Homo sapiens: one gene and its partner. The protein of the gene in region 1 interacts with the protein of each later gene in a biochemical or structural test. Each region holds a gene or a part of one and is shown in the gene's direction. Other genes may lie near its edges.

What was found. Proteins that work in one complex are often made in the same cells at the same time.
Region 2: the proteins of HECTD2 (region 1) and UBE2L3 form a complex in vitro, tested with the Homo sapiens proteins (one large-scale study listed by BioGRID).

The regions. Positions count from the first base shown.
Region 1 is NC_000010.11:91,493,017-91,498,530, forward strand, and holds part of HECTD2 (probable E3 ubiquitin-protein ligase HECTD2), read left to right. Parts: intron 1-403; coding exon 404-492; intron 493-3,188; coding exon of another isoform or gene 3,189-3,197; coding exon 3,198-3,356; intron 3,357-5,091; coding exon 5,092-5,166; intron 5,167-5,514.
Region 2 is NC_000022.11:21,604,707-21,609,213, forward strand, and holds part of UBE2L3 (ubiquitin-conjugating enzyme E2 L3), read left to right. Parts: intron 1-4,507. UniProt on the Homo sapiens protein: Ubiquitin-conjugating enzyme E2 that specifically acts with HECT-type and RBR family E3 ubiquitin-protein ligases.

The DNA.
Region 1 (5,514 bases):
TTCTATATGTGTATGTGATGGGAAATAGGGATGACAGTGATAAATTGAAGTCTCCAGATATCCTCAAAATTAATTTTGATCATAATTTATAATCTATGAAACTATACTTTTTATAAAGTTATCTGATTCATTTAGTTTCTATCTTTTTACCCTGTTTCTACCCTTGGTTCAGGAAAATAAAATGTTCTCCATATATATTTAATATATATATTTATATTTGCTGAGATTTGCAAATATATAGTCCCATAAATAATCCAAAATTTTTAACTTGAAAGATGGTTTGTAACAGAATTATTGTTGAATTGATTAGCTTCTAATAGATGAGATGTCATGTACATGTTTACCACTTTGATTTTTTTAAGTCAATCATGTTAATAATAACATTATTCGTGTGTTTTTTTAGGCATGTTTACATATCACAAGGATTCACACTGCCATTGGTTTAGCAGCTTTAAATGTGATAACTATTCTGAATTCCGATTGGTTGGAATTGTATCCTTTAAACTTTCCACTAGGAGGTGCTAATAGATTAGAGATTTTTAAAGATTTTATCTGTATTTTAGAAAACTGTTTTCTTTAGCCATTTTATCCAAATTAAATGTTATTGTCAAATGTACTATTAGATTTTCAGTAATCTTCATTATGTGTAATATATGTCAGTAGACTTAATTGAAAGAAATGAGAGTTTGATTTTTTTCTGAAAACCTTATCTCAAAATAAAAATGGTTCTTTCCTATTTCACATATAATTGAAGTTATCACTAATTTAAGGCATTTTTTAAAAAAAATCAAAGTATTTCCCATTTATAATGAAGTATTTTTTTTCTGTTCTTTCACTTTGTGCTCATTTCCCTCAGTTTACTGAATTGAAATTGGGGGAATTAAATCTAGCTCTTTAATATGCCTCCAAATCCTGAAACATAAAGGAAGCATCCATAAAAATTGAATGGAATGGGAATATTTAAAGCATATAGTATTATTTTATAGTATTTTTAAAAATTTTATAAGTCCATCTGCAATCCTATGATTCCTATCAGGTATATTGTAGAGGGCATTTCTGCATTGGGTAGGAGATTGGACAAGATGCCTTCTACATTAGCTTTTTAGATTCCAAGAAATGTAATTGTTTGTGGAAGAAAGGAGGGAAGAGTAAATAAATAAGCACTGGAGATAAGAAAGTATAAAAGGGGTGGGGGGGAATTCTTAATCTGTTCTCAGAGTCAAATGACCATATGGCAGTAAGTACTAAGGAGTTCTGAGAAGGAAAATATACAATGTATTTTTCCCAGAGAGGATAGAGATTTAAAAAATGGAACAATTACATTTGATTAATATATGGCTGGTGAGAGTGGTGGGACATTATAAGCTGAGAGAATGGTGAGAATAAAAAAGGCTAAATTGTGCTGGGCTTGGTAGAGAGCAGCAGCAAGCGCACTGAAAGTTATGGAAAATACCATCAGAAAATGAATGAAGAGCCATCTTTGAATGTCTGTCTTTGTTACATCTGTTGGAATAAATTATGAGACATATATATGGAAACTGAGAGACCAGATTAATAAAAGAAAGTGTAGTAGGGAACAAACTACACATTAAGATAGTAAACTCAACTTGAAATTTTGTATATATTGTTGTGTCTAAAGGTCCAAAGTGCTAAATTCCACAAAATGAATAACGCTTAACAATTCTGAGACTCCTGTTTATATTCTAGTATCTGCAGTAATCATTTGTTGAATGTTTCATCTTCATTGAAGGGCCTAATCATTGATGCTTGTCACTATACTATGAGCTATTTATATGTTCATACATATATGTTTGTCATGCTTTATATTCATATATCACAATTTAGATTTGGATGATATTTTGACTCTAATATTTACACTAAAATATTATAGCTTAGTTACATTTTTAAGTGATACTATACATAAAATCATGAAATTGCTCATTGTTTTTTTTGCAATAGATATTAGTTTCTATTTAGTCATTACCCAAAAGAGCATATTAAGCATGTTTAGATATTCTATATTTCAAGTTAAACAATTAAATCTAAAAATTATAATTGCTACTCTCATTATTATGTGTGTTTATCACACACACAGATATAAAACCTATAGAAAGCTAAATTGATGCTGTAAAAAGCATAATACTATATAGGAGAAATGTGAGATGAGAGTGGATTGTGGTCAGGTAAGGAGTTGGGAACTGAAATTTGAGAAAGAACAGGTATGAACATTGAGAAAATATAGTTGGTTTCATATATATCTCCAGTTTTAAAATTTCAGGACCAAAGATGTGTTGTTCTAGTAGTTCTGACAGTATTGTGTTTCTAATACAATTATTTTGAAGTATAAGGCCTTATTATCAGACTTCATTACACCTTAGCAAATTGAAATTTTGGTGGTCTTCCAATTTTTAAAAGTTATTTTCAGTAATTTACCCAGCTCATATGTTTAGATTTCCTTATGATCCTATAAAATGAATTACTTCCTTAATAACTTTATATAATAATTGACTGTTGAAATACTATGAAATTTGATCTAAAACCTCTCTTTCCATAAATGGATAAGTTACATTCCACCATATGACTAATAAATAATCCTGAGCAAAATTTGTAACATCTGTAGCTTTTTAACTTTGACACTGAAACTCCAAGTAACATAAGTCTTTCAAGTTTTACTGTTGGAAATTACCTATCCTATTAGCTTATCAATAGCATGTTTATATCCATATGTTTATTCAGTTTAGCTCTGTTCTTCACACATAGTCTGTTTTTAATTTTAAAATAAATAAAATGGCTATCTCCAAAATCAGTATTCTACAGTGAGATCTACTGAATAAACCATTGCTGCTGCTTATAAAATTGCCAGCATCTTTGTTTAAATTTAGAAAATGTTTTCTGTAAAATAATTACAGGCAAGTCTTAAGTTGCTGCCTGTTGTGATCTTAGATAAACTTTTCTAGGGAAATCATTGAATACTATCAACTAAACCACTCCTTTTTACATGACTTTTTGTAATCAAGGAATTATATTATGTAAAATAAAGGGGAAATAAATGAAAGAGGGGAAAGGAAATATGTGATACTAATTAGAAAGTCAGTGTTAAATCTGAAAGAAGTATGCAAAAAATAGACTGATGCATAATTCAGAACTCATTTGTTGTCATGGATTTTATGTTAATGCTTAACATTTAGTATGCATAGCTTATGGGACTAGCTGTTTATAACAGCATCACCTTGGATATTCGTTTCCCTCCCTGCTGTTACAAGAAATTATTGAGCCCTCCCATCATTCCTAGTGATCAAAATATACCAGTAGGCATCTGCAATGTTACCGTGGACGACTTATGTCAAATTATGCCTGTAAGTATAAAGTTATTAATATCTTGTCCTTTAATGCGAAATCATCTTTTTTCTACCTGCACAGTCTCTCCTCCTAATGCTATTCTTACTTTTAAATATGGTTTCCTTCTACCTTTATAACTCATCTCCTTTTTTCATCTAGCTTTTTCTTTCCTTAGAGACACATGTCACCCACTTTGCAGTGCTCCTAAGCTTTTACAAGATAGAGAGGCAGTAATTCGAATCCAGGCTCTGTCACTTACTAGCTCTGTGAATTTGGACAAGTTATTTAACCCTTCAATTTAGTTTCTTTATGTGAACAATGGGATAGTTTTTATTAATAATTTTTAAATGATGACAATTATATCAAATCTGTGCCAGCCTAGATTTGTATGAAAATTTGTGGTTTTAAAGGAATAGAACATTTATTATGTAAAATATAGAAAATCATTCTAATCATGCTATTATTTACCTTTTTCTAATAATTTAAAATAAAACTTTAATTTTTTCATAAAAATTAAATTGAAAATTTTGAAATATTGGATCAATTTTTCTATTTTTAAATCTTTATTTATGGATAATTTCAATTATAATATAATGTAAGAAAATCTTTCTTTTTTTTTTTTGAGACAGAATCTCACTCTGTCACCCAGGCTGGAGTGCAGTGGCTCCACCTTGGCTCACTGCAACCTCCGCCTCCTGGGTTCAAGTGATTCTCGTGCCTCAGCCTCCTGAGTATCTGGGATTTTAGGCATGTGCCACCGTGCCCGGCAAATTTTTTTTTTTTTTTTTTTTTTTTTTTTTAGCAGAGACGGGGTTTTGCCATGTTGGCCAGGCTGGTCTCGAACTCATGGCCTCAAGTGATCCGCCTGCCTCAGCCTCCCAAAGTGCTGGGATTACAGGCATGAGCCACTGAGCCCAGCCAGAAAATGTTTCTTTTTTTTTTTTTTTTTCTGCCCAAGACAGTCTTGCTCTGTTGTCCAGGCTAGAATGCAGTGGAACAATCTCAGCTCACTGCAACCTCCACCTCCCAGGTCCGAGCAATTCTCCTGCCTCAGCCTCCCGAATAGCTGGGATTACAGGTGTGAGCCACCACACCTGGCTATTTTTTTTTTTTTTTTTTTTTTTTTTGGATTTTTAGTAGAGACAGGGTTTCACCATGTTGGCCAGGCTGGTCTTGAACTCCTGACCTTGTGATCTGCCCACCTCGGCCTCCCAGAGTGCTGGGATTACAGGCATGAGCCACCGTGCCCGGCTAACCAGAAAATGTTTCTTTCAGTATACTTAACTTTTTCTTGGGAGGGGAGGGCACTGTGCATGTATGAACTGTATATTCATGAATGCACATGAATGAACTGTGTGTTTTATGTTTAAAATATGAATCCAAAAACATTAGCAGATTTTCATAGGAATATAAATTGAAAGTGAGAAATACTACAAATTCATAAACAGTAATGTGGCAGATAGCAGTGAATTATGACAGACACTACATTAGAGGTATGCTTAGCTTGCTGCTTAAGAGTAGACCCCAGAGTTATGCCCCTGTAGTTTGAACTGGATAGTTTCCCCATCTATGACCTATAATGATTTTTTTCTTAGCCTCTGGATGGTAGAAATCATTAACCATTTTGTGCCCTGGAAAATACATGTCAAATATGATCTTTATATACATATGCATGAGCTATAGAAAAGCCACTTCATTATCCTAGCTAATGCTATTCTATTGAAAAAATCATTAACAGATTTCTTTTTATAGGAGTTGGCCCATGGATTAAGTGAACTCTTATCACATGAAGGCAATGTTGAAGAAGATTTCTATTCAACATTTCAGGTACTATTAAGGGCAAGTAGTTATCTGTTAATCATATATTTCATATATGAACAGTGCAATTTGTTATTAAATACCCACTGTTAGAAAAGATGAACAAGGATTAACCAATACATACAATCCTCTGTCTTAAAGGACCTTAACCTGATAAAGTAGACATGTGTAGATGAGCAGTCAATGAAAGTGCTTAATGAAATTCACTAAGGGTTCAGAGTACTCTCTAGGCAATTACATATCCCCTTGAGTTGGTTACTTTCTCAGAGCTTTTTAGTTTCTAAAAATAAGCCTCTCCTGTAACTTCAACATTAGAAGCTAGGAGTAGAAACTAATGAGTCAGACCAAAACTCTCTG
Region 2 (4,507 bases), on another chromosome or scaffold:
GCCTTTACCCGGAAGGTATATCTTATGTTTTAATTTTTGCATGCCTCTTTCACCAAAAATCTCTGGGACAGGCACATAGTTTGTGTGACTTATGCACACCTGAGCCACTCCTTTGACCATCCACAGATCCCCAGACTAGGAAAGAGGCCCAGAGAAGTTCAGATGAGTTTGGCCAAGTTCCCTGGGTGGTGAGAGGCCTGGCCTGCCTCATGTAGTAACAGAACTGCTTCTTTTTTTTCCTTCCTCTTTTTGGAAGAAAAAAGAGGCAGGATCTCACTGTCTTGTCCAGGCTGGAAGGCAGTGGCGTGATCATGGCTCACTACAGCCTTAACAACTAACAACTTAAAACTATAGCCTCAAGCAGTCCTCCTACCTCAGCCTCCTGAGTGGCTGGGACTACAGGTGTGCACCAGCAGCACGCACAGCTAATTTAAAAAAATTGTTAGCAACAAAGTGAGATCCTGTCTTTACAAAAGGACTTGTTTTTGTTTTGTTTTGTTTTTTTGAGAGAACACCTTGCTCTATCGCCTAGGCAGGAGTGCAGTGGTGCAGTCTTGGCTCACTGCAGCGGTGTGATCTTGGCTCACTGCAGCCGGTGCCTCCTGGGTTCAACCAGTTCTCATGCCTCAGCCTCCTGAGTAGATGTGATTACAGGTGCGTGCCACCACGCCCAGCTAATTTTTTGTATTTTTAGTAGAGACAGAGTTTCACCGTGTTAGCCAGGATGGTCTCGATCTCCTGATCTCGTGATCCACCTGCCTCGGCCTTTTTTTAGTATAGATAGGGTTTCTTTTTTTTCTTTTTCTTTTTCTTTTTGAGATGGATTTTCACTTTTGTTGCCCAGGCTGGAGTGCAATGGCACAATCTCAGCTCACCACAACCTCTGTCTCCCAGGTTCAAGTGATTCTCCTGCCTCAGCCTCCCAAGTAGCTGGGATTACAGGCATGTGCCACCACGCCTGGCTAATTTTTGTATTTTTAGTAGAAACGGGGTTTCACCATGTTGGCCAGGCTTGTCTCAAACTCCTGGCCTCAAGTGATCTGCACATTTCAGCCTCCCAAAGTGTTGGGATTACAGGCATGAGCCACTGCGCCCAGTCTGTTTTTGGCTTTTTTGAGACAGGTTCTCATTCTGTCACCCAGGCTAGAGTGTAGAGGTGTGATCATGGCTCACTGCAGCCTCAGCCTCCTGGGCTCTTGTGATCCTCCTGCCTTAGCCTCCCAAAGTGTTGGGATTACGGGCATGAGCCACTGCACCCAGCCAAATCTGCTTCTCTTGAGCTTTGCCCATGTGTCAGGCATGTAGGACTTTATAGTCCTTATCTCTCATCATAAACTCTGGGTACAGGCTGTTGCTACTCCCATTTTACAGATGTACAGGAACATTCTCAGACTCTTTAAGCTAGGAAGAGGCAAAGTCTGAGGCTAGACCTGCTAACTTGGGGCCAGATGGCCTCATTCATGCTTCACCCCAGCTCCTCGGACAGGACCTGGCCCACAGTGGGGAACAGGGGAGGTTGGTCAGTCCTGGACAATCAGTGAAGACCTTTAGCAGATTTCACCAACCAAAAGTCATGCAGGAAAGTGTGCGCGCGCGCGTGTGTGTGGTATGTGTGTGTGTGTGTGGTGTGTGTGTGTGTGTCTTACTCTGTTGCCCAGGCTGGAGTGCAGTGGCACAATCTTGGCTCACTGCAACCTCTGCCTCCCAGGTTCAAGTGATTCTCCTGGCTCAGCCTCCCAGTGTGCCACCACACCCAGTGAGGGAAAGCTATTTTTACATGGCTCAAGCAGTGTAAATGACAATGATGTTTACTTACTTCCCCCCACCACCACCACCATTTAATTCTCCTCTTGAAAACTAAAAGCTGGCTGGGTATGGTGCATCACTCCTATAATCCCAGCACTCCAGCACTTTGGGAGGATCACTTGAACTCAGGAGTTTGAGGCCAGCCTGGACAACATAGTGAGACGCCATCACTATAAGAAATAAAAAAATAGCTGAGTGTGGTGGCATATGCCTGTAGTCCCAGCTACTTGGGAGGCTGAGGTGGGAGGATTGCTAGAGCCCGGGAAGTCAAGGCTGCAGTGAACCGTGATTGCACCTCTGCACTCCAGCCTGGGTGACTCCCCACAGATGAATATGCTGACAGTGGTTTCAGCTGCTCGGTGGTGATTCAGACCTGGACGCGTGGCTTCAGTAGCCCTGGGGCCACACTGCCTGCCCGCAGCCTCCTGTCTTGCTCTATGCTATTCCTTCCAAGTCCCTGCCATCTAGTCTTTAGTCCTCTCTGCCTGGGAGGCCTCTTCCACTCCTCAGCCTTATGTCATCTTATCCATCCTTTAAGGCCCTTGCTCCATGCCTCCCCTCCCAGGGCAGGGCTTGGATGTAGGAGAATGTGGAGAACTGGCGCACGCCAGCCTTGCTCCCCAGCAGAGGAGCTCTGTTTACTGGAGTGCGTACTTAGGCCACGGCTTGAAGATATGGGGCTGGGGTGTAGGGCTGTCAAGATTGTTCCTGGGGCCAGGTGCAGTAGTTCACTCCTGTAATCCCAACACTTTGGGAGGCCGAGGCCGGCAGTTCACCTGAGGTCAGGAGTTCAAGACCAGGCTGGCCAACATGGTGAAACCCCATCTCTACTAAAAATACAAAAAAAAAAAAATTAGTCGGGCAGGGTAGCGGGTACCTGTAATCCCAGCTACTTAGGAGGCTGAGGTGGGAGAATTGCATGAACCAGGGAGGCAGAGGTTGCAGTGAGCTGAGATCGCGCCACTGCACTCCAGCCTGGGCGACAGAGCGAGACTCCGTCTTAAAAAAAAAAAAAAAAAAAAAAAGATTGTTCTTGGGCTCTCTGTGAAGCTTGGATTTCTTTGGGTTGGGTGTGCCATGGCAAGTGCCATGGCAGACCTGGGTGAGGGAAAAGGGAGTACAATGGGAAGGGCTTCCCCAGCTCTGGAGATAGGTAGGGTTGGGGAGAGGCCAAAAGACTCTTTGCTGAGTCATCTCTCAGGCTCCTGGGGCCATCAGAGTGTCCAGGCCCCAAAGGTGGTTTTCGGGTGGTTCTAGGGGCAAGGGGCTAGGGCATGGTGCTGGCCCTGCCTGGTGATCACCTGTTGAGTGACCAGCTCAGGTCCCCAGGGTCCAGCCATTGAGCTGACTACTGTTTCTACCCTGGGAAGATTGAGCTGGCCAGGACTTGGCATCAAGGCAGTTATTTGGACTTCTAGTACTCACAGTGTATTCTGGTTGGGTTGTAACTTACCTCTGGTACAACTCTACTTGTATCTTCAGAAAAGATCAAGAGATATTTGCAAAAACATAATATGATAAAGGACTGTCTAAAGGACAAAGAACACTTAAAACTCTATAATAAGAAAACAACAATAAATAACACCGTGCATCTCTTAGAATGACCAAAATCCAGAACACTGCCAAATGCTGCTGAGGACGTAGAGCAACAGGAACTCTCGCTCTTTCCTGGTGGGAATGCAAAATGGTGCAGCCACCTTGGAAGACAAGTTAGGCGGTTTCTTTCATTTATTTATTCATAAAATCTTTTTAACAAAGAAATTGAGTCTCTCTCTTGCCCAAAATGGAGTGCAGAAGCGTGATCACAGCTCATTGCATTCTCAAACTCCTGGGCCTAAGAAGTCCACCCTTCTTAGCCTCTGAAGTAGCTGAGACTACAGGCACATGCCACCATGCCAGGCCAATATATTTATTTTGTTATTATTTTTTGAGATGGAATCTTGCTCTGTCACCCAGGCTGGAGTGTAGTGGCGCAACCTCAGTTCACTGCAATCTCTGCCTCCCGGGTTTAAGCAATTCTCCTACCTCAGCCTCCCAAGTAGCTGGACTACAGGCGTGCACCACTACGCTCTGCTAATTTTTTTGTATTTTTAGTAGAGACAGGGTTTTACCACGTTGGCCAGGCTGGTCTTGAACTCCTGACCTCAAGTGATCTACCCAGCTTAGCCTCCCAAAGTGCTGGGATTACAGGTGTGAGCCACTGAGCCTGGCCCAGGCTAATATATTTAATTTTTTTTTTTTTTTTTTTTTGTAGAGATGGGGTCTTGTTATGTTTCACAAACTGGTCTTGAACTCCCGGCCTCAAGTGATCCTCCCTCCCTGGCCTCCCACAGTGCTCAGATTACAGACATGAGTCACTGCTCCTGGCCCAGTTTGGCAGTTTTGTTTTGTTTTTTTTTTGAGACTCAGTCTCGCTCTTTCGTCCAGGCCAGACTGCAGTGGCGCAATCTCCACTCACTGCAAGCTCCGCTTCCCAGGTTCACACCATTCTCCTGCCTCAGCCTCCTGAGTAGCTGGGACTACAGGCGCCCACCACCACGTCCAGCTAATTTTTTTTTGTATTTTTAGTAGAGACGGGGTTTCACTGTGTTAGCCAGGATGGTCTCGATCTCCTGACCTCGTGATCCACCTGCCTTGGCCTCCCAAAGTGCTGGGATTACAGGCGTGAGCCACCGCGCCCGGCCGGCAGTTTCTTACAAAA